3 linked regions of the Homo sapiens genome follow. The protein of the gene in region 1 purifies or fractionates together with the protein of each later gene. This does not show direct contact. Each region holds a gene or a part of one and is shown on either strand. Other genes may lie near its edges. The genes, in order: SNTG2, CTNNAL1 and UTRN.

Region 1 (8,602 bases):
GGATTGATTCTGTTTTCATTATAAAATATTTTTCTTTGTCTCTTGTAACAATTTCTATTTTGTCTAAGTACAGCCACCCTGCCCTTTTGTTTGCATGAGATATTTTATTCCATCTCTTCACTTTTGGCCTATGTGTGTCTTGAAATCTAAAGTGAGTCTCTTGTACACAACATATAGTTAGGTCTCAATGTTTTTGTTGTTGTCTATTTCACCACTCTAATTTCTGTGGATAGAGAAGCTGAGACTCAAAAATAATATTATTTATCAGCACATATGATGGCTTTTTACATGCTGGGAAAGATGACTGCTTTTACACAACATCAATATCCTTAAATTGCGAATTTCTATTTAGGTTCTAGTCCACCAATAAACCCACTGCCATTTTTGGTTATGTGCTTCCATAAACTAATCTTTATTTTATTTCTTTGCATGTTTTTTCTCTTTCATTAGAATGCTGCCTTTCTGTAGTAATATTGAGAAACATTTTACTTTGTCCATATCTTCTTTCCATTTAACAATATTACCAAAAACAAGCAAACAAAGAAACTAAAGCTCAATTTATTCAACCAAAAATGGTTATTTATCTTCATTTCTTTACATTTAAGGGCACTGAACAAATTCTATCCCATTTTTCCCATAGGAAAAAAAAAAGTACATTAAATGATTGAAAGAAGTTATCTGTATTCATTTTCTATCGATGCTTAACAAATTAACACAAATATAGTAGATTAGAGACACACATTTATCCTCTTACAGTTCTCTAAGAACTTGTCTCTTAGGGCTAAAATCAAGGTGTTGGCTGCTTTCTCCTGCAGCCTCTGGGGGACAGTCTGTTTTCTTGGCTTTCCCAGCATCTGGAGGCTTTGCCCTTGTGCTCTGAGCTCACCTGTGCCAGAAAGCTCCAGCCACCGCAGCTTTGGAAGCATGCCTCCCTCTCTGCCCTCAGAGTGGAGGATCTTGTATGAAGCCTGGATCACCAGCCCAGCCTGTTCAGGAGAGCTCTCTCTGGGGTGTGTTCCTTCCAGCAGCACAGCTTAGAAGGAAGGTATAGGGTGGAAGTTCAAAAGGATCAAGATATTTTTATTTCCAGAAGGTTATTGGACTCTTTGTGCACTGGCACCTGCCACAACAAGTGAGGGGAAGCTCCTTGCCTTTTCTATTTCCCTTATATTTGTGTGACTAAAAGAGGCTACTCTAGTGTTTTTAATTTCCTTTTCTTAAAAACACAAACAAACAAAAAAAAAGTCTGTCCCTAGGGGATTTTCTTTCCTTCTCACTCAGACAGAAGCAGCAAACATACGGTGTCTGATTTCACCCCCCTACATCCAGCATCATACACAGATGAGCAAACCCTTCACTCAGGAAGGGGATGAGTGATTTTTCTTTCAATATTTGTAGAGATGGAGTCTCTAAATAAGAGAGCAGTGTCTGCTTGGCCTACCATTGGAGCCTGATTCTGCATAACGATTCCAGTCACCTGCGTGTCCCAGTGGTTTTTTGTCTTACTTAAGAGAGTTCTTTTGGAGATCCCACCCACAGGCTCTGACCTTATGGAATATTCAAAGCTGATGCAGTCCCCAGCGCTGTCTCTTCCATTCCACTAGCATCCATCAACTCAGTCAGCTCAGACACAGCCCTGAGCAGTAAACTGCGTCCTTGGGGCCTTTGGTCCAAGCCTCAGTGCTTTTTCTAGCTTTGCCTTCTGTGCTTCAGCCACTGGATTCAGATTCCATTGTCCCATCTGTGGGGGCCAACGTGAAGCTTTAAATAAACATGTAAACATCTTTTATTTGTTACAGCCTGTGACATTATGATTACATCATTCTCCACCAACAATAAGAAAATTTACATTACAATGATTTGTCCCATTGAGTGTGTAGCACGAAATTCTCATGGAATTTAATAAATGGTCATCAAGTTGACCCATTTAAAAAAAAAAACTCACAGAATTTTGAAAACCACAGCATGGCAAATCATTATTGGAGACAGACAGTGCAATTAACACAGTGAGGTGGCTGAGAAGTTCCACAATAGCAAAAGTATCCCGCCTTCTTCAATCTACTTTTCTCCAAATCTATGCAAACAAAGAGTGTTTAAAAAATATAACTTTTTAATATCAAACACATTTTGGGAAATGCTGCTGTGTTGATACCATCACATTTCAGTAAAACTTCCATGAAAGTCACCGACGCTGAGCATTTCAGTAGAACTTCCACGAAGGTCACCGATGCTGAGCATTTCAGTAGAACTTCCATGAAAGTCACCGACGCTGAGCATTTCAGTAGAACTTCTGTGAAGGTCACCGATGCTGAGCATTTCAGTAGAACTTCCATGAAGGTCACCGATGCTGAGCATTTCAGTAGAACTTCCATGAAGGTCACCGATGCTGAGCATTTCAGTAGAACTTCCATGAAAGTCACGGATGCTGAGCATTTCAGTAGAACTTCCATGAAAGTCACCAACGCTGAGCATTTCAGTAGAACTTCCATGAAGGTCACCAACGCTGAGCATTTCAGTAGAACTTCCATGAAGGTCACCAACGCTGAGCATTTCAGTAGAACTTCCATGAAAGTCACTGATGCTGAGCATTTCAGTAGAACTTCCATGAAAGTCATTGATGCTGAGCATTTCAGTAGAACTTCCATGAGAGTCACTGAGGCTGAGCATTTCAGTAGAACTTCCATGAAAGTCACTGATGCTGAGCATTTCAGTAGAACTTCCACGAAGGTCACCGACCCTGAGCATTTCAGTAGAACTTCCATGAGATACACCGATGCTGAGCATTTCAGTAGAACTTCCACGAAGGTCACCAACACTGAGTGTTTCAGTAGAACTTCCGTGAAAGTCACCGACGCTAAGCATTTCAATAGAACTTCCATGAAGGTCACCGACACTGAGCATTTCAGTAGAACTTCCGTGAAAGTCACCGACGCTGAGCATTTCAATAGAACTTCTGTGAAGGTCACCAACGCTGAGCATTTCAGTAGAACTTCCACAAAGGTCACTAACGCTGAGCATTTCAGTAGAACTTCCATGAAGGTCACCGATGCTGAGCATTTCAGTAGAACTTCCACGAAGGTCACCGACGCTGAGCATTTCAGTAGAACTTCCGTGAAAGTCACCAATGCTGAGCATTTCAATAGAACTTCCATGAAGGTCACCGACACTGAGCATTTCAGTAGAGCTTCCATGAAGGTCACCGACACTGAGCATTTCAGTAGAACTTCCATGAAAGTCACCAACGCTGAGCATTTCAGTAGAACTTCCGTGAAGGTCACCGACGCTGAGCATTTCAGTAGAACTTCCGTGAAAGTCACCGACGCTGAGCATTTCAATAGAACTTCCACGAAGGTCACCGACGCTGAGCATTTCAATAGAACTTCCGTGAAAGTCACCGATGCTGAGCATTTCAGTAGAACTTCCATGGAAGTTACCAATGCTGAGCATTTCAGTAGAACTTCCATGAAAGTCACCAACGCTGAGCATTTCAGTAGAACTTCCACGAAGGTCACCGATGCTGAGCATTTCAGTAGAACTTCCACGAAAATGACTGACACTGAGCATTTCAGTAGAATTTCCATGGAAGTCACCAACGCTGAGCATTTCAGTAGAACTTCCATGAAAGTCACCGATGCTGAGCATTTCCATAGAACTTCCATGAAAGTGACCGGCGCTGAGATGGAATGACTCCTGTGAAACCCTCACAAAATGGACCCCCCCCATGAAAGAGGAACCATGAATATTTACCTGATAACAAGAAGTACCACAAAAGACCCTGGCAACACCACAAGCTGCACAAAGACCACTGCAACCTTGTGCAAAGACAAGTCTTCTATGAGGACACAAGCTCCCCTTGCTATTGATCCTTGTAGCCAAGGATAACGGTTTCAAAACAACTTCTGTAACCTCCTCACTTTGCCTTTAAGCTTTCCTGAATCCCAGCCTCTTTGGATATCCCTATAATCTCTTATAGCACATATGTCCCAGCTTGCAATTGCCTACATAGTCCCAAATAAACTTTGGGAGAGCCTCTCTCTGTCATTGTATTAGGCTGACACTCCCTAACCCAACATATTGGACTGTTCATTCCACACTGTTTCCTGCACAGAGAGCCAGCAGGTGCCCTTTCCTCTGCAGGTGGAAACACATCAGCCCATGACCGACATGTGAACACAGGTGAGGAGTGCAGCGAGGGATCCATACAGGGTGTCCCCAGCTTAGAACTCAACACAAGTATTTTGTTCAAACAAAATGTCAAAATGTGATTTCAATCAGCTCTAGTTAAAAATTCATAATTCAAGATAGCCTTGCTGGTAATACTTGGTTAGAAAATTAACCAGACCAGAGATATCATGACTCAGCTTTTGGCTGAATTGAAGATGTTCAGTGAAATGCCCACAGGATGCTTGTTTATTCAGTATCTGGATCATGACATAATGGATTGAGTATTGTTTCATAAGCTTTAATTTCATTCCTGGCTTTCAGTACTACTCATTGAGTTTTAGTGTGGAATTTAGTGGTGTGACCGATTTCACTGCTAGCTAGTAATTTCTTTTATTTTCTTTTTTTTTGAGACAGAGTTTCACTCTTGTTGCCCAGGCTGGAGTGCAATGGCACAATCTCGGCTCACTGCAACTTCCGCCTCCCGGGTTCAAGTGATTCTTGTGCCTCAGCCTCCCAAGTAGCTGTGATTACAGGCACCTGCCACCATGCCCAGTTAATTTTTAGTATTTTTTTTTTTTTTTGGTAGGGACAGCATTTCACCATGTTGGCCAGGCTGGTGTCAAACTCCTAACTTCAGGTGATCCATCTACCTCGGCCTCCCAAAGTGCTGGGATTACAGGCGTGATCCACCATACCCAGCCATTGCTAGTACTTTCAAAGATTATGCAGTGTAACTTCAACTTATGGTACCAAAAACTATTGATGTTGTTTTGAATATGTGCATTATTACTGGTAGCTGTTTGGCTTCTTATTTCTGTGCATTGTGCTATTATTGGATACATCTTGGGAACTTGTAAAGCAATTTTCAGTTTCTATGTATAAAACCAAAACCCTGGCCGGGCGCGGTGGCTCACGCCTGTAATCCCAGCACTTTGGGAGGCCGGTGCTGGCAGATCACGAGGTCAGGAAATCGAGACCATCCTGGCTAACACATGAAACCCTGTCTCCACTAAAAATACAAAAAAAAATTAGCCAGGCATGGTGGTGGGCGCCTGTAGTCCCAGCTACTTGGGAGGCCGAGATGGGCGGATCACGAGGTCAGGAGGTTGAGACCATCCTGGCTAACATGGTGAAACACCATCTCTACTAAAAATACCAAAAAAAAAAAAAAAAAAAAAAATTAGCTGGGTGTGGTCACAGGCACCTATAGTCCCAGCTACTCAGGAGGCTGAGGCAGGAGAATGGCGTGAACCCAGGAGGCGGAGCTTGCAGTGAGTGGAGGTTGTGCCACTGCACTCCAGCCTGGGCGACAGAGTGAGATTCCGTCTCAAAAAAAATAAAATTAACCCAAAACCCTGAAGCATGAATGATATGGTCATTATGGCTCTTTTTCTCCAAAAGTCCCTTTAAAGCTCAGTAATTGCTATTTGGAAACACATACATACATTGAATTACAATATGTGCTAAGTTTGCAAGAACCTTGTGTTTCTTCTAGAAAGCTACTTGGTTTTTTTTTTTTCCTCTAACAGGGATAAGTCAAAATGAATAAAAGATTTTGAGTACAGTCTCACGCTTTGGGTATGATTGGCGAATCCAGCTTGAATTAAAGTTTAACACAAGGGCTGGGCAGGCCCTGGGTTCCACTCATGACCAGAGTGAGGGATGCTGGTTACCAAGTGTAATGACGCTTTATGAAACTACCTAAAGACTATGAAGCTTTGGCAGGAGAATACACCTCAACATCTTGAACATTTTGCTCATCACAATTTGAAATGATCAAAATAATTAGTGTTGTAGCTGTCAATGTTAAGAGTCATTCACATGCATAGGAAGGAACTTAATTCAAATTGGAATAAAGGAAAGATGAAGCCTTTGGTTGCAGTCACTAGGAGGTTGGGGGCAGCTCCCAGCATGTTGGTACCCAATGTCCCCCAGTGTTCTTTGTGTATCCCTGCATGGGGTGTTCCTCTGTGTTGAAGTCCTCTTCCGGCAGGCTGGCTCGCTGGCTCTCCACTTGGCATTAGTGGTATTAGAACAAGCTTCAGGTATTCACTTCTCACAGCTGGTCACACCAATGTAGGCATCTTGGCCTCCCTCTCCCTGTCATCTGTACCAAGCTGCCACTGGGCTCTGGCTGGTCCAGCTGGGTCCTGTACCTATTGCAAGAGAGAAGCAGTTTCTAAAAGAAAGGCATGCAGAGAGGACCAGGGAGAGGCCGAGGGGACTTCATGCTGTCAGGGAAGTTTGAAGTCATTTTTGAGATGTCACGTCTTTGAGTTATAAAGAAAAGCAGCTCCGAAAAGCTGAGATGGATGTTATTGGGGAGGGAGGGCTTTACCCGGTGATGTGTGACCTCCAATCCTGCCTGGGGCCCCATTCTCCACCCCCTCATTCTGCCATGGAATGAAAATGACCAAGATCCTGCCTTTCGAGAGCTTAAAGGAGCATGTCTGTGGAACTGACAGGCCTTAGCGTTGCTCTTCTTCTTGAAAATGATTTATCTTTCTTTCTGGTGTCATCTCAGCAGTTTAGAATATGCTAGAATTTTGGTGAGATTTAGAAAATAGGATGTCAATCAATTAGCAGTCACCTCAAAATAAATTTTATTTTCTTCATTTTATTGAATTTTGTTATGCAAACAAAGAAGAAAGACAACATTAGAAGAATGCACTTAGACCTTCTTTTCTACCAATAGAATGGGGGTGGCAGGACGGCAAGATTCGTATTTTACCATCAAAAACAGGAAGATGATTTTTCCCCAGTAACTGAATAACTTCTAAAAACAGTTTCTTTAACTTCTGTGTCAGCTTTGGGGTTCACTGTGGACTTTTCTGTTGATTTGACACAGGGACTTTATGTGGGGCAGTTTGTGGAGAGAAGATGAACCTTTTGTGGGTCATTTTTGCTTTTACAGGACATTTAGTGTCTGTAACATGCGGAGGTAAGGATCCAGGAGTTTGTTTCAGTTTTTTTATTGGGAGGGGGTAGGGGTATAACCGTCTCTCTAGGAAACTCTCCCTGGGGCACCCTTTCCTGCTCTCCCGTAGCCATGGGGACAGGGTGGGTGAACAAGGCCCCTCCTCGCTTCCCGCCGTGCTGTGCACACTGCCTATTCTGCGCCACACAGCAGGCGCTGTTCCTCCCAAGCGTGGCCTTGGCATGAAGCCCACACGCACCCACACAGCAGGCGCTGTTCCTCCCAAGCGTGGCCTTGGCATGAAGCCCACATGCACCCACACAGCAGGCACTGTTCCTCCCAAGGGCGGCCTTGGCATGAAGCCCACACGCACCCATACAAAAGGCACGGCGGCCTGAGACACAATGGCTAGTTCTGCCAACTCACACAGCACAGGGGTCTGCTGCGACGGGATCCACATCACAAAATCACCACAGGTGCTGGGCAGGTGGGGAAGACTGAGTCCTGGCCCAGATTACGGGGTCTGACTTAATCAAGACCCATCACTGAAGATGCAAAATAAAGGAAGTGAGCATTAGCCCCCGTTAGGTGCAAGAAAACAAGTAAGTTACATTCTCAGCGTTGTAATAAAAAATACCCAGTATATTCATGTTTATAACCAATTTGGATCATGATTTGGATCATGTTACTCTGCCTTTTACTTTAAACCATACATATTTCCTGTCTATTATTATTTTTTTGGAGGGACTTTCTTGGAGTTCACAAGGTCCAAACTTTGTTAAATATTTTTGTAACGTGTTCTTCCAACAATTATAATAAACACTTGATCTGATTTTCTCCTCCAGGAACTCGAGTTCCAGGACCTGAGGGCTGTCCTGCACTGCATCCACTCCTTCATAGCAGCCAAGGTGGCCTCCGTGGACCCCGGCTTCATGGACAGTCAGAGTCTTGCCAGAAAATACATGTACAGCAGCTAAAGGTTGTTTCTGTTGAGTGCTGAAAAATTAAATTATTTTCGTAAGAAATGATTCTTTCCTGCAGAATATTGCAACTTTGTGTTGTTTTATGATGAGCCTATAGTTGTGATACCAATAAAACATGTCACTAGTTTCCAAAGACGGGTCCTCCTTGTTAAATCTGACATGGGGGATGCCTGGTCCCCTCTTCCCATGAGTCTCCCCCCAACGAGGAGCCCCAGCGTCCCCCACACAAGTCTGTGGCTCAGACTCCAGTCCACCTGATGCAGTTCACGCCCCAGCCCGCATCCCAGCAGCATGAGAACCATGTGGGCATTGCACATGCCACTTCCCACGTTGGCAAAACCCAGATTTATTTTCATAAAATATGTCATCGAAAATTCTGAGCGAGTGCCACGTTTCTCCTCAGGAAGGAAAGGGTCTCCTTTGCAGTGGGCTGTCATTTCCTTTTTCCTCCAGTGGGGATCAGAGTGACAGGAGTATTTGAGAAACAGGGATTGGTCAAAATATGTAGGGCAAGGAAATCAACTTTACTTAATATTAT
Region 2 (8,602 bases), on another chromosome or scaffold:
AAGGCAACATTTAAAATAGTTTTAATCATGATGAAAAGAGATTTTTTCCTAAAAAATTTTTAAGTAAACTTACTGTTGAAGTATAAAGGTATAGTTTTGCACTCTGCATTTTTTATTTAACCTTGCTATCGCTTTTTACTCATCCTGCTTCCACTTTAGTGAGGAGAAGCAGCTGAGTGAGCCAGGGACCCAGGAGATTTTGGTAAAGAACCATTTTTCTTAGCATGACATGTTCTCTGTAAGATTTTTGTGCATTATGACATAAATCAAATATTAAAATAAAAATTTTCAATTGTTTTGAAGACATGTCTGAGGCATCCTAACTGCGAATCAGCCCATAAAAACAAAGAAGGAGTATTTGACCGTATGAAAGTGGCATTGGATAAGGTCATTGAAATTGTGACTGACTGTAAACCGAATGGAGAGACTGACATTTCATCTATCAGTATTTTTACTGGAATTAAGGAATTCAAGGTAAGAATAAAGAGAGTATATTTTTATTTTTCTCTTCTTATTTTATTTTATTTTATTTTAATTTTTTGAGATGGAGTCTCGCTCTGTTGCCCAGGCTGGAGTGCAGTGGTGTGATCTCGGCTCACTGCAACCTCCACCTCCTGGGTTCAAGCGATTCTTGTGCTTCATCCTCCCAAGTAGCTGGTACTACAGGCATGTGCTACCATGCCTGGCTAATTTTTATATTTTTGGTAGAGACGGGGTTTCACCATGTTGGCCAGGCTGGTCTCAAACTCCTGACTTCAGGTGATCTACCCGCCTGGGCCTCCCAAAGTGCTGGGATCACAGGCATGAGCCACTGCACTCAGTCTTTTCTTTCCATTTTAAAGGAGCATCATTATGTATAGTATCCATATTTTTGTGTAATGTTTTAGAACAGTGCTTCACAAAAGCAAATGTATCTATTTAAAGCAATGCCACTCTGTACAAACTTGTTGCTCAGTAATATTTACATTAAAGGTGTATTTACAAAGAACACTGGTCTTTGGTTATAGTAGCTACTCTGGCTCTGTTTAGCTGTATGGTTTAGCTGTAGCCTCCTGTTCAAAAGAATGTTCCCTTCCTGTTTTTTGAGCAGTGCCATATCTTTTTGAGCAGTACCATCCATAGGATGATGGTGAGCAGCAAATCATTTCTGCTAGAATTCCTGCTTTTCTCTGTGTTAGAGGGTTGGTACTTTGAGACTATAGTAATAGTATTAGTAATAATTAAAATTTAAAAATCAACAGTAATACACACTAACAGTTATTGAGTCCTTATTCTGTGCCAGCCCTTTTCTGAGTGCTTTAAATATATGAACTTATATAATCCTCAAAGAACTATTGCTATTATTTCCATTACACTGTTGAGGAGCTTGAGAAACAGAAAGGATATTAACTTGCTGGCTACTAAGTACCAGAGTTGGGATTTGAAACTAGGCAGTGTGACTCCAGGAAGTCTGACTTCTCATCAGAAGTCATAGACATGGTGAAGATGCTTTCTGGGTAAGAGCAGTGTCTGAGTTGGGAGGGCCCTAAGAAGTCATCTAGTACAATGCCCTCCTTTAACAGATCAGAAAACTAAGGCCCTGAGAAGTTATCCAAATGCTAAAGGTTCCCACCTCTCTAACAGACAGGGCTATGATGAGAATGGCATTCTTTCCATTTTACTGCACTTTGATTTATTTTATTTATTTATTTTTGAGATGGAGTCTCACTCTTGTTTCTCGGGCTGGAGTGTGGTGGCACGATCTTGGCTCACTGCAACCTCCACCTCCTGGGTTCAAGCAATTGTCCTGCCTCAGCCTCCTGAGTAGCTTGGATTACAGGCACCCACCACCACAGCCGGCTAATTTTTGTACTTTTAATAGAGATGGGGTTTTGCCATGTTGGCCAGGCTGGTCTCGAACTCCGGACCTCAGGTGATCCGCCCACCTTGGCCTCCCAAAGTGCTGGGATTACAGGCGTGAACCACCACGCCTGGCCCTGGACTTTGATTTCTAATTGTGTGAAGGTCTAAGTAGGAACATGGGGTGAAAAGACAGTAATGGAAAGAATATCTCTTTTTGCTCTTAATAAATATTTTATTTAATCCCTACCTGCCCTTTAGGTGGATATAATTATATACTGTTTTTTTTTTTTTTGTTTTTTGTCTTTTTTTTTTGAGGAGGAGAGCTAGTAAGTGGTAGAACCCTTCTTTAGGCCCAGGATTCTCTAATCCCAAAGTCCATGACCTTTCACTTTACACCTCTGGGTTTGTTTATATGATGCCAGTCCTACCACTGAGTCTTCCTGAGGGGAAAGAAACTGTACAGACCAAACCTTCTCTTAGAAATTTTATTGCTGAAAGAGATCTTAGAGATTATTTTTCTAATCTTCCCTTTTTATAAATGCTGAAGGAGGAGATGTGTTGTCAAAGGATAATTAGGGAAACAAGTAAGTCAAGTGAGAGACATCTTTCACCACCTGCTGCTGCATTTCTAGTGCAGGTGAAGGAGGGGCAGTGCTCTGCCTGTGGCTGCTGCCGACAGCTCTGGCTGCTGCCCTCTCGCCATCAGGCATGCTGGAGGCAGAGCTGTTATAAATAGGCTCAGTCTCACTGTCCATGATTATCTCTTTGGCATCTTGCTTTTTTTCTGATGGAGAGTATAATCTATGGAGGGAAACTGGGTACTTTGCTGTATTTGGTACCATGAATATATGGACAAATGTTATGAAACCATATCAGTAAATAGCCTCTTTAAAAAAACCCCACAAAACTCCACTAAGTTGCTGTCTAAAAACATGTATATTTTCTCTCTAAAGGGAAAATAAAAAACCTTAACATAAATGGTATGAGACCAATATAACTGATTTTTATGTTTTAATTCTGTTTAAATTCTCAAATTTAATTCTCTTAAATTAATAAAATAAATTTAATTCTCTGAGAAGATCCCCATTGTAAATTCCATACCTTACTATTATCTGTATTCTTTCCTAGCTTAAATACAAGTTTCTGTCTACCTAGGATGGAGTGATCACCTGACACAACTTGGGCCAAGAGCAGGAGGGGAAGCAAGGACTCTCCTATGGCATCTTGACTTTCCCAAACTTTGATATTTTCATGGATGATGTTAAAATGGGTCACACATAAGGATTAATTAAAATAACATTTGTGAAAGGACTTTGAAGTGTTAAACAAATGTAAGGTATCCTTATTATCACATTCATTGTGACCATAATCATGATCATTACCGCTTGTTGCCTCTTGGCCCAAGTTGTCTGTGTGACATATTTCATGGACTGTAGTGTTTTACAGGGTTGAAATGGCATGATGCATCGTAGAAAGCTGAGAGAGAAAGACTGCACACATGAGCATGTGTTCATCACATAGTCAAGGAACTCCAAACAGGATGGCTGAAGTGAAAGGTTGTTAGGGGGTTCAGGGGGTGAGATAGACTGTTAGAGAAGTATATAAAGACAGGCCATAGAGGATTTTGTGCTATACTACATAGACGTTTGGGCTTGATTCTCTATAGATGGCGAGGAACTATTAGAGGGAGGTGGCAGTATCAGATGGTTTACATTTTAGATTATACAGACCCTCTGGTAGAGGATGTTTGGGTCAGTAAGGTGCTGTTGGGGACTTTAAACAAAATGTAGGGAGACCAGTTAGGTGACTAGGAGAGTCTTTGCTGAATTAACAAAGGAAAAATGGATGTCTTCCCCAGTGCTTCTCACACCCCACATCTTCCACACCATCCTTCCCCCTGGGCTCAGCACATTTCATATTTGGGTGTAACTTATCTTCCAGGACTTTGCCTAGGCATTTTCTCAGATGCAAATCTTTTACCTGGAGGCTGGTTCATTTTTCCTGCCAGTTGCTAGAGGATGATGCTCTTTCTGCCTTAGTATTCACTGATCTCATAGCAATGTCATTGTATTAATTACTCTAGGAATGGTGCTTTGCATGGATATTGAAGGCTTTTGAGCAATGTATCCTTCTGGGTTAGTGGCGAATATAGATATCATTGGTGGCTGTATTTCCCCTCAGCTTGGGAAAAGGAAATGCTAGTGTTTTCCTGGGCACTGTTAGAAATTACAGCCCATTTTGGTCAGGTGGGAATATTGACTCACATGGATGGATAGATGTCCTTTTTGTTCTCAGATGAATATTGAAGCTCTTCGGGAGAATCTTTATTTTCAGTCCAAAGAGAACCTTTCTGTGACATTGGAAGTCATCTTGGAGCGTATGGAGGACTTTACTGATTCTGCCTACACCAGCCATGAGCACAGAGAACGCATCTTGGAACTGTCAACTCAGGCGAGAATGGAACTGCAGCAGTTAATTTCTGTGTGGATTCAAGCTGTAAGAACTTTTTTTAAAATCAAAGTAAATCTTATATAATGGCTTTCCCATAAAGTTTTGCAAGATATGGAAGTTACATAATCACCAGGAGTATGAATTTGTTCCAGAATGGGACAGGATATCTCATCCCTTCTTTCCCTCCTAGTTGGCCAAAATATCCTTCCCATCTAGCACTTACAATACTTGACATTTATTTCCAGGCCTGTTGACTCTCATTCTAGCCAGTCTCAATTATATGCCTCTGTCACTATCACTAGTTCACACTGTTGTCCCTACTCTTCCACCAAACTCACCTCTGGAAAATTCCTCCCCAAAATACTTCTTCAGAGTGAAGAACAGAGGAGTAGACCCCCTCCTAGAGGTTCTTGGGACCTGAGCCTGACTGCTGGAGCCATTCACATGTACACAATTCTTACCTCTGAGGACAGCTGATTTACAGAGACAATGATTTAGAAAACTTATTGGGGTGTAGATTCAATGAAAACAAGGGTAGATCCAGCTGGCAAGTAAAAGCTTTTCACCCTTGCACAAATTCCTGGTCTAAAATTGGTGGGTGGCCACTCTGTGAGCCTTAAATGGGCTGTTGGTGTGCTTCAAACAGAGGAGCTTATTTGGGCAAGAATGGCCAAGACTGACAGAAGTGGGACAGACAGGAAGTGTGTGTACACAATCTCTTATAGCAGGTGGATTGCAAAGTGGAGAGACAGAGAGCCCTGGGACATGTCTCTAGCATTATTTATTTCTTAGGCCCAGGCTCTGTCAGAAAAGTATTTAACATGGCTTACAATATACAGCAGTGATAGTACAAATCTGGAAGTCATGAACAAAGCTTTGGCAGTAAAGATGATGAAGGAGGGTGGATATGGCTGAGACTGAAGAAAGAAGGAGCAGTTGATTTCCTTGTAAGTAGATTAATTTATGAATGAAAGTAGATATGAATCACAGATTTCTCTGATGTTTTCTTGGCATCACAGTAGTGCACATGTTCTTATTAACAGGGAATCTTGCCCTAGAGTATAGTCGTGTGAGAGACTTGAGCAATGTTTTGTGTTTAGTTTGAATTATCTGTGTGATACACAATCTGAAGTGTAGATTGCTTCAGTGTTCAGTTTTAAGTCCAACACTCACTATAAAGAGTTGCTTGTGATGAAATACTCTGTTGGGAATGTGATTCTATCAATACTCAAATTTGCAATTAGCAAATGTCACAAATTTAGCAAATTTACCCGTGCATATTTCACAAGCACTCAGATCTCTGATCCTGCATTCTAGGTGTATTTTTCATTCATTCATTTTTTTCAGCAGTTGTTACTGGTGCCTTTTATATGCCAAGCACCATAAATCTAAAGATGAATAAGCTAAAATCTTTGTCTGCAAGAATTTTACAATATAGAAATTTGCGGGAAGGGGTGAGACAAGTACAAATAGCTTTGTAAGTATCCTAAGAGAAAGTGTAGACTATGCATTGAGAGGGTTTGAAGGAGGACAAATTTATATTTAGGGAGGGGGCTCAAGAAGTCTTCATGAAGTAGTGATATTTAATTTTTATTTATCATGCAAAGAATTGAATATCTACGACCTACCATTTGCTATGCCAGGTACTGTGGATTTAGTGGTGTGCAAAATAGATGTGAACCCAGCTTTCGTGGCCTAGTGGGGAAGATAGACTTTAAACAAACAAAAAATAAAAAATTCCAGATGGTTTGGACTGAAAAAATAAATATGTAATTGCAAACTGGGACGATTATGGAGCAAAAAGATTACAGTGAGTAAGAAGAGGGTCTGATTTAGATTGAGTGATCTGAGAAAGCCTTTCTGAGAAAAAGACATTTATGTAAGATCTTAAAGATGAGTAGGATTTTAATTTTTAACTAGGTTAGGAGTGAAAGCATGGACATTCTAGGCAGAAAATAAAAGAGATTAATTTTAGACTTGAGTTTATTAAAGAAAATTAGATTTTAAAAGTTCACCTTTCAATATAATCCATAGGTTCACAGAAAAATAAATAAATAAAAAAACAGAAGTTCATCTATTTGTAGTTAGCATTGAAAAATATAACTAAACTGAAATTTTATTTTCCACTGTAACTTAAACAGGTAAATTTTGAAAATCTACTTTTATAGTTCACAGAATAGTATTAAAATTTATTACAATTTACAGTCCAAACAAAATTGTAATTAACAGATTAAAGAGATGCGGTAACATTACATGTATACTTTTTAAAATTTTTAGCAAAGCAAGAAAACAAAAAGCATCGCTGAAGAACTGGAACTCAGTATTTTGAAAATCAGTCACAGTCTTAATGAACTTAAGAAAGAAGTAAGTATAGTTTGAAATTTAGCCTCTTCTAATTCTTTGTGATTTTCATGTTGTATGGGTGTATGAAATACATTAGTATTATTAGTATGTCTCTGTGCCTAGAAAATGGTTTTAAAAGTTTTCCTTTGAGGCCAGGCATGGTGGCTCATGCCCGTAATTCCAGCACTGTGGGGAGGCCAAGGTGGGAGGATCACTTGAGCCTAGGAGTTTGAGATTAGCCTGGGCAACATGGCAAAACCCCATCTCTACAAAAAACACAAAAGATTAGCCAGGTGTGGTGGTTAGCACCTGTAGTCCCAGCTACTCGGGAGGCTGAAGTGGGAGAATCACCTGATCCCCAGGGCTCAAGGCTGCAGTGAGCCATGATCGCGCTACTGCACTTCAGCCTGGGTGCCAGAGTGAGACTGTGTCTCAAAAAAAGAAAAAAAAAAAAGTTTTCCTTTGACATAGTTATTTTGAAGCCATGATTTTATTAATGCCATCATTCTCAAAGCTTGCACATGAATTTTCATCACTTTATTCATAATAATAAAAAACTAATAACCTAGAATTCCATCAACAGAGGAATTGATAAATGAATTTTGGAATAATTCTACCAAATACTATTCAGTAATAAAAGAGAACAGTATTGATACATGCAACAATATGGATGAATCACTAAGACATACTAAGCAAAAGAAGCCAGGCACAAATGATTATATGTATAAAATTCCATTTAGAAAAAAACAATTCTAGAAAAGGCAAAACTAATTTATAATGACATAAATCAGATCAGTGGCTATCTTGGGTCAGAGGTTGGGGTATATTTACTGCAAAAGGGCATGGGAGGACTTTTTGGCATGATGGAAATGTTCAAAATTAGTTGTTGTGATTACATGGCTGTATATGTTCATCAAAACTCACTGAACAGTATCTTTAAAATGGGTACATTTTGTTTTATATCAATTCTATCTCACTGAAATAAATTTTAAAAGATATTCCTTTGGTTGAGAGGGTTTCCCTGTTCCCTGAATAAAAAATTGGTCATCTCATGACTTAGTTGGCCACTCTCAGGTTATTGAAAGTCCTATGGTCACTTTAAGTCAGGTGTTCACAAACTACAACTGGACCGTTTTCGTCAGTAGAGTGTATGGGGACACAATGCTGCCCATCTGTGGACCTACTGTCTACTGTTTTCTCACTACAACAGCAGAGTTGGATAGTCACAATAGGGCCTAAAATATTTACTCTCTGGCCCTTCACAGAAAAAGTTTACCAATTCCTGCTTTAAGTCACAAAACATAATCTCAGTTGAAAATTAGAATGTTAATCATTATTTAAATCTTCATTTAGTTGTAGAGCTTCTCCCCTGTTCCCTGTTTTCCCAGCTCCAACTAGATAGAGCTGGGAAGATGTGGTCTCTTCTCCCTTTTTCACTTTCCTCACCCTCCGTTACGTAGCTGTTGTTGATTTTTGTCAGGTTGTGGCATAGAGAGAGAAGAGAGAAAGTTGAGAGGCAGAAGGTTTTTAGTGACCAGCACCCTTATCAAATGGCTTTGGGCTTGGTAGACATTTACAGTGGACTCTCACTCTCATGGATACCTTAGTGGTTCTTCAGAGGCTTTCCTGTTGCCCCCCCTACCCCCACCCCTGCCCCTCAACCCCTTTATCCTGTTGCTCCCTGCGCTTTGAGGCATGCCTGGAGGAGGGAGTCACAGTGGGCACCCAGCAGCTCTCCAGACAGACCCTCCTCACACAGACCTCTCATTTCCCTTAGCTGTGCTTTCTTAATTCTTTTATTTTTATTTATTTATTTTTTTGAGATAGAGTCTCACTCTGTTGCCCAAGCTGGAGTGCAGTGGCGTGATCTTGGCTCACTGCCACCTCTACCTCAGGGGTTCAAGCGATTCTCATGCCTCAGCCTCCCGAGTAGCTGGGATTACAGATGCACGCCACCACGCCCAGC
Region 3 (8,602 bases), on another chromosome or scaffold:
TGCTCAGCCACCACTCACCTCCTGCTGTGCCACCTGGTCCCTAACAGGCAACGGACTGGTACCAGTCCAGGCCCTGGGAGTTGGGGAGCCCTGTTCTAGTGGGAAGGCTATTAATGAACACACAGTACCAGAAAAGGTACCAGAGAGTGCTAAGAACAACACAGGGAACGTAAATACAGAGATGCAGTCAAGAGTGACTGGGAGAGCTACTTTCTAAAGTCAGCAAGGAAGATCTCTGAAGAGGTGACATTAGGCCTACATCTAAATGACAAGAAGGAACCAGCCAGGCAAAGATGGAAGAAGAGAGATGTGCAAAGGCCCTGAGGAAGACACACTGGGCCTTTGGAGAAATAGAAAGAAGTCCAGTGCCACAAATCACTTCAGTATGGCTCACATTTATCATCTGCAAAATGGCGGTTGTGAGGATTAAACTGTTAGCACCACATCTGCACACAGAATGTGTTCAATTAGTGTAAGTTGCTAGAATCGTCATCATCAGCAGCAGCAGTGAGATGCCATCATTGGAGGTGTGCAAACAGAGACTGGGTGAGCACATCACAGGAATGGCTGGGTTATAGGGCGTTTAAGGTTCCCTCAACAATTAGATCCTAAGATTAGACAAGAAGAGAAAATGCAAAGGAAGAAATGATAAAATTGTTACACACAGGCTTCCAGCCCAAGGTCGCTTGAAGAACACATTGAATTATCCAAAAATGTGAAGCTTGCCCAACTATTTCATTCATCAAACAGTTCTTTCCCAGCTGAGAGTCTATAATCCCAAACTGTCAAGAACTCCACATGGAGCCAGCTGACACACTGTCCTTAGCCCTGAGGTCTACTCTTTCTACAGGGCTCTGGGATAAAACCACAACAACACTGACAGCAACAGAAAAGGATGACTTATTCTGTGTTACTAGCTTTAATGTATGTTAATTATTGAATGAAATAGCAGTGAGGATATTCTTCGATTGTATATGCATCCCAAACCATTTTATTATTTCATGTTTAAAATGTTCCAAGCAGTACTTTCTGCATCACACACTCTACTGGCAATAAATTTCACTTTTTAAAAATTCTTAGTCTTGGCCTATTGTTTCAAAATATTTACTAACTTGTTGAACTTTCTAAAGCCTACTAATTAAGGCTGTTAATAATACAGTACTTGATGATGAACTTGGCATATGTGCTTTTAAGTTAGAGAAAGACAGGTCTACTTTTACCCAACACCAAATCCTTGGTCATTATAGATCAAATTCTTTCCAGTTCCTTTCTAACACTCACCCAAACCCAAGGCAAGTATACTACAACCATAAATAAATACATGGCTTTGTATTTATGAAACTACTTCATTACGTACCCTTGACAACTTCCTATTTCTGTTTAGATGGTAGAAATGGCTTTAAAATTATAAAATTTAAAAAATTATAATATTCAAAATGGCATGAAACAAAGTAATACTAAGTGAGGACAATAAAAATAATCACAATAACTTAACATAAAATGCATAGACATTTTTATTATGCCAATTTAATTATGCCAGCCTTTTGGATTGTCCAAACTCGAGGATTTGGAGAGCAGAAACCACACTCTCCGTCCCCCCACTTTCATCCAATTTCCCCCCAAAAAAGAAACCTGGAAGAGCAGATGAGGATCAAAATTTTCCTAAAGGAAAGTATTCCCTTTTAAAAAATGGAAAAGCAACCAATTTGGCATACAGCATGTAGACAGAGGATCTTTAAAATACATATATGATATGTAGACAATTCCTATGACTTAATCTAAACTAAAAATCTCTTAAAATATGTAAGTTTTAGAGTACCATGAAATATTACCTCTGTATAGTAAGCATTTGCCTTAAAAGAATCAAAAAAAGTCCCTTAGAGGAAGCCAGATTGGGACTAATGGGTCCATTCAAATCCAAATTTATCTACTGGCTTTTGCAACATAATTCAGCCAAAAGAATGTGATTCATATCTGAGCTATGTAACAACTAAATTTTCAGTGTGTTTTGAAGTAGATGCCACCACAAAAAAAGTAATAGTCATAACCTTGGCATCTAAACACTCTAAGCAATTTGATAATCTTTAAAAATATAAGAACTCAGTAATGTGGGTTCATTGAAGAACTTTAGAAAATATAAATCAGCAAAAAAAAAAGTAATAATCTCAAATGCCAAGATGACCACTATTAACATTTATTGTATACTTCACTAAATTTTTAAAAAACATTTTTCATATAAATGACTTCATATAATACATACTTGTTTACTTACTATATCAAGAACACATTTCTATATTCATACACACACACACACACACACACATCACACACATCTGTATCACTTTTTATGAATGCTTAATCTTCTACTTTATGGATATACCCTAATTTAGTTACCTCTACTGAGATCATGTATGATCTGTTCAGATGTGCTAGAGTAAAGAAACAGAATAATAGGTTTAAACAACTATTTCCTAAAGCTATTTGACCATAACATCCTTTTGTGAATTACACATTAACAATCCTAGAACTTTTGATCTTTTCGAAATACTTTGGGAAATAATGATCTAACCAATTCCTAATATTAGATTTTCATGGTGTTTACAATGTTTTCTATTATAAATGATACTGTGATCAATTTCTTGAGTGTACCTTTTTATGTATTGCCTAGGGAAAAACTCTAGAAACAGAATTACTCAGTTAATTGATATGCATGTGTTAAAAACATGTTATCATTTTTGCCAAATTGTTCTCCAGCAATATTTTAGGTTCATCAGCCTTTTTAAAAGATAATTTTAAATTAAAATAGTTTGGGAGTTTATATGTTCATTATATATACACGGTATTTCTGAAATTAGATAATTACTCTTTTATGGACACGGCTAAAGTACAAGTTATAAATATCAAAGGTCTTACTAGAATGAAGGCTGACTCAGAAAACTATTTAGGAATATACCTCCTCACAATTTATAGAAAATGACTAGTATGGAGACATTAAATCGTCTCTCTTCCATTTTCCTCTGTTATATTTACATATGTCTGAATATGTATTCCGTACTCCTAAGATGATATTAATAATCCCTTACATTTTTGTAGTACCTTATACCACTAAAACATTTAAAACAAAAAGAATTTTACAGGAAGAGAACATCCTCAAAGCATATTTTAAAACAAGATATTAAGCTATACCTTCAAAAGACCCGTCAAGCTACACAATAGTTGCTACATATTTACAGCCAAATCTGTAATAACTAAAATCTTTATCAATCAACCAACACCGGTATCATGGAGGAAAATGTGTATTTTAAGACAGTTAATTTAGATCTTATTTTCACTGTGTATTTCTACAGTTTCACATAATAAGAAACAAGCTCCTAACAGAACATAAAGATGGTTCACACAGCAAAAACAGGCTTTGGGTTCCTTTTTTGTCTTTAAAGTGACACTGGATGTAATTTTATACCTCAAAGTAACTTTTCAAAGTTACTTAAGTATAGTGTTCACACTCAGGGTGGAGTTCTGTGTAATTTTCAAGGCTGAGAAGTGTTCTGCCTGTTCAAAAATATCTCCCCTTTGAGTTTGTCTCAGAATCATATTTGAAGCTTTTTAAAAATACAGAAATTTTTATTCAATGGGTCTGGAATGGAGCCAATGCATCTGCGTTTTTTAAAACTCCCCAGTTGATTCATCTGTACAGCCAGAGTCAAAAAGCACTCGGTTATATAAAAAGATTGGAGGAGGGGGTGGTATCCTGAGGACCCCAATTTAACTGTTCGTGTGAAAACCATGAATCTGTCTGAGTCTGGTTTATTAGATTACCTAGGTGAAAATTTTACCTTGAGAAGGCTCATAAGATATTTCAAGGTAGGACACCTGTTGGCCTATCAATGGCTATGAACAGGGATGGGGGTGAGGATATATGGTAATGAAATCAAACTGTGAAAGATCTTTCCTGCCAGAAACTGTGGCACTTCCTACATTAAGCATATAATCCCTTCAATTTCCAGAAAATAGAAAGAGAAATGTTCGGTCGTATTTTATTTTAATGGAGTAGTCTTCCAAATGAACAACCTTTAGCTACAAGCAGCAGTTTCACTAAGCACAAAATTGGGTTGAGAAAGGATAGGACACTCAGAGATATTATACCTTTTACATATACCTTTTACAAAATTATAGTCATTTGTCAGAATTCAGTTTCTTAAAAGAACTTCACCTCCAAGAAGTTCTTGCAAGAACAATGCAAATCAATCCAAGAAACATAGGTTTTCTAAATACATAAAAATCCATAGCTTTCTTGAGCTTCCTTTACCTACCAGATCTGGACTTAATGATATCACTGAATTCGTTCTGCCCATTGTCAGGACTGGCTTCATGTTCTCCATACTTGGCCATCTTGCCAGAGTTTCAAGATAATCCAAAAACTTTACCAAGTCCTCTTTCTAAGGCTTTCAACTTCCTACGATGGTTCAGCTTGACATCAATACCTAAAAGGAAAAGGGAAAGTACTGACTTGAAAAAATGTATTTATATATTTTATATAGTTATTCGTAGTAACTATTCATTCACCAAATATTTATTGAGTGCCTACCACGTGTAAAGCACCAAGCCAGGCAATGGTGTTATGACTATGAACAAGAGACATAGCCTCTGCCATTACGGCGCTTATGCACACTAAGCAATTAATTACATAATGAATTATTTCATTACAATACTGACAGACTACAAATCATACAAAGGAGAAGCACAGAGTATTAAGAGCACACAGCAGAGGAGTCTGACCTGCCCTGGGCAATTAGAGAAGGCTTTCTTGAAGAGACATTTGAGCCAAGCCTTTAAAGATGACAAGAATTTAATTAGCCAAAAAGGGAAACAGAAAGAGAAAAGGTAAGAGCTTCCTATGTGAAGTGGCAGAAAGAATCATGGAGCAGTCAAAGAATGGAGCACAAGCCAGTGTTTCTGGAAAGAAGACAGCCAAGAGACAAGTGTACCTGTTGAACCAGGTGAAGAAGCTGGGCAGGACCAGGGATAGGACCATGGAGAACAGGTCAAGGGTTTGTGTCTTTATCTGAAGAGCAATGGGGAGCCAGTAGATGGTTCGAAGGAGGGAACCAACATGGTCAAATTGGCCTTTTTAAAAGATCGTCAAGGGACGGGCACGGTGGCTCATGCCTGTAATCCCAGCACTTTGGGAGGCCGAGGCAGGTGGATCACGAGGTCAGGAGTTCGAGACCAGCCTGGCCAGCACAGTGAAACCCTGTCTCTACTAAAAATACAAAAAAAAAAAAAAAATTAGCCAGGCATGGTGGTGTGCACCTGTAATCCCAGCTACTCAGGAGGCTAATGCAGGAGAATTGCTTGAACCTGGGAGGTGGAAGTTGCAGTGAGCTGAGATCACGCCACTGCACTCCACCCTGGGCAACGAGAGTGAGACTCCATCTCAAAAAAAAAAAAAAAAAAAAAAAAAAAAAGACGATTGTGGCTTGTAGGTAGACCACAGTAATATGTGGGGAACCAGTGAAGACTATGGCAGAATATAGCAAAATGCAAATTAAGGAACCTAGCTCATGGGTATATGAATGCTGAATGAAAATTTCTTGCAACTCTTCTGTATGTCTGAGAATTTTTTCATAGTAATATGTTGGGGAAAAATTCCTAATCTTAACCAAGTGATCAAAATTCACATAACCAATCATGGGGCATCATGCAATTGAATGGAAAATCACCACATCATCTACACAATATCCTTGCCAAGATGTTGAACGTGAATCTTCTCATGAGCAGACAAATCTAGACTGTGGCTAGTTTTCAAAAGAAATGGCCTGGTTTCTTCAAAACTGTCAGCGTCTTGAAAACCAAAATTACCTGGGAGAGGGGGAGCTTTGTGAATTAAAGGAGACTAAATAGACATGACAATGAAATGTAATCTTTGATTGAATTCAGAATTTTAAAATAAAACATTTGAGGATCATTTGAAAAATCTGAATTTGGACTATGTATTAGACAATATTATTGTATCAATGTTAAATTTCTTTAACATTAATTATGGTATTGTTGCAGGAGAATGTCTTTGATTGTAAGAGACATGTGGTGAAATATTTAGCAATGAAGTGTGATGGTATCTTCAACTTAAGTTCAAACAGAATAGCATATATCTGTCTATACTGATATAGGTATATTTAGGTTGATATATGTATGTAGATGTATATATGCATACACACAGACAGACAGAAAAATGCAGTAAGTATTGTAAAATAAGTGGGAAAACTAGGCCGGGCAAGGTGGCTCACGCCTGTAATCCCAGCACTTTGGGAAGCCAAGGCAGGTGCATCACCTGAGTTCAGGAGTTCGAGACCAGCCTGGCCAACATGGTGAAACCCCATCTCTACTTAAAAAAAAATACAAAAATTAGCTGGGTGTGGTGGCAGGTGCCTGTAATCCCAGCTACTTGGGAGGCTGAGGCAGGAGAATCACTTGAATCCAGGAGGCGGTGGTTACAGTGAGCCGAAATTGTGCTATTACTCTCCAGCCTGGGTGACAAGGGCAAAATTCCATCTCAAAAAAAATAAAGTAAGTGGGAAAACTTGTTAAAGGGCATCTGGGTCTAGGCGAGGTGGCTCACACCTGTAATCCCAGTACTTTGGGAAGCTTAAGCGAGAGGATTACTTGAGCCCAGAAGTTTGAGATCAGCCTAGGCAACATGGTGAGACCTTGTCTCTACTCCATGTAAATAAAAATTTTAAATAATAAAATAAAATAAAATAAAAAGGACATCTGGGTGTTTATTGTGCTATTCTTTCTATTGTAATATTATATGCAGGAAACAAGTGTGGTCTAAACAAGAGTAGATAGAAAGAAATGGGTGAATATGTGGGATATTTAGATATCAAAGAAAGTCAATAGGATTTGGGAATTGATTGGATATGAGAGATTCATATCCAATGTGCAAAATGTGCAAAATGACTCCCCAATTTTGGCTTAGGCAATTAGGTGAAGTGTGAGTCATTGAGCTGGGCAACACTGAGGATAGCAGGCTGGGAGAAAGGAATCATCAATGTGATTTGGATTTGCAGAGCTTGAAATGCCTCTGAGTTATATAAGCGGAGATGACAAAAAGAGAGTTGGGCCCAGCATGGTGGCTCATGCCTGTAATCCCAGCTCTTTGGGAGGCTGAGGCAGGCAGATCACTTGAGGTCCAGAGTTCAAGACCAACCTGGCTAACACTTGAGGTCAAGAGTTTGAGACCAGCCTGGCCAACATGGCGAAACCCTGTCTCTACTAAAAATATAAAAATTAGCCAGGCATGGTGGCAAACACCTGTAATCCCAGCTACTCAGGAGGCTGAGGCAGGGGAATTGATTGAACTCAGGAGGTAAAGGTTGCAGTGGGCCAAGATCGCTGCCACTGCACTCCAGCCTTGACGACCGAGTGGGTGAGACTCCATCTCAAAAAAAAAAAAAAAAAAAAGAGAGAGAGAGAGAGTTGGATATAAAGGATTGGATCATCAATCTGACAGATTTTATGAGAGTCTAAAAAACTTTTTTCATTTTTTATAGGCTCTACTACTGCTAAAAATTTATGGATTATTATATGATTACATTCTTTCATTCAAGTACATAACTATAAAGGATTTGCTAAATTCTTAAGTGTATTTTATTATATTCAAGAATCAAAAACTTTGTTCAGAAGAATGTCTATAAAAGTTTATCATGGAAAATTAAGTTTGCCCAGGGAAAAATTCTCTTTCCTGGAAAGAACTACAGTGTATCACTTTGGAGCAGTAAGTCTAATGCTTTTCTTCACTATTGGTCTTAGCCAAGATCTCCACTTCTATGCTACCCAAAGCCTTTATTCACCCATAAAAGAGAAAAGTCAACTGTTTACACACTACTTTATTCCATTTGCCCATTATCAGTAACACTTCTTCACTATAATGTTTCACTTGCCACTCTCCTCAAGGTGATTTTTCAAATTTTTCTCTTCTTGATAATGAAAATCCCTTACAGGTTGCAAAGATACAGCAGAAAAGGTGATCAGAGTACAGAGGAAAATGGGGAGAAAGAAGAATAACAGAAGGCTATTTAAATAGTGATAGCCACTGAGGTTACTTGCCATTAATGGCCAGAGGAATTTGAGTACACTTAAGGCAAAGGATGACTCCTTCTAATTGCCAAATGCAGAATCTTTGGTTCTCAGGAGACAGAATCAAAGTTTCACCACGAACAATGCATCCCAGTGTGACCCTCCGTCTTCCACACCTATAAAATGGAGGGAACACCATCTTCACAGAAGGCTAGGTGAGAAACTGAGAATCAATGAATGAGATGTTGCTTTAGAAGCTTCAAGCCCTATACAAATGCAATTTATTGTTACCTCTGCCCTAGATTTCCCTTCCCTCAAATGATATTCTGTAAAAGCCAGATGTTCTTACTGAAACCAATCCAGTCAAGTCGATATTCACTAACTCTCCCTTCAGAACGCTTCCGGCTGTCATATGGACCACCAAGCAAGAGTGTATGAAATAAACATAAGGTGTTTAAAAAATAAACATAAGGTGACAGCCTTAAAGACAAAACTAATGTTTCAATTTTTTAAGATTTTAGGAATT

The links.
Region 2: the proteins of SNTG2 (region 1) and CTNNAL1 purify together in Homo sapiens (affinity purification with mass spectrometry; 2 studies listed by BioGRID and IntAct, with this or other methods). This does not show direct contact.
Region 3: the proteins of SNTG2 (region 1) and UTRN purify together in Homo sapiens (affinity purification with mass spectrometry; 2 studies listed by BioGRID and IntAct, with this or other methods). This does not show direct contact.

What each region holds. Positions count from the first base shown.
Region 1 is NC_000002.12:1,359,417-1,368,018, forward strand, and holds the end of SNTG2 (gamma-2-syntrophin), read left to right. Parts: intron 1-7,926; coding exon 7,927-8,058; 3' UTR 8,059-8,197; downstream 8,198-8,602. UniProt on the Homo sapiens protein: Adapter protein that binds to and probably organizes the subcellular localization of a variety of proteins. May link various receptors to the actin cytoskeleton and the dystrophin glycoprotein complex.
Region 2 is NC_000009.12:108,975,017-108,983,618, reverse strand, and holds part of CTNNAL1 (alpha-catulin), read left to right. Parts: intron 1-303; coding exon 304-474; intron 475-4,137; coding exon 4,138-4,338; intron 4,339-6,570; coding exon 6,571-6,657; intron 6,658-8,602. UniProt on the Homo sapiens protein: May modulate the Rho pathway signaling by providing a scaffold for the Lbc Rho guanine nucleotide exchange factor (ARHGEF1).
Region 3 is NC_000006.12:144,287,616-144,296,217, reverse strand, and holds part of UTRN (utrophin), read right to left. Parts: exon of another isoform or gene 8,264-8,602; intron 4,482-8,263; 5' UTR 4,390-4,481; coding exon 4,311-4,389; intron 1-4,310.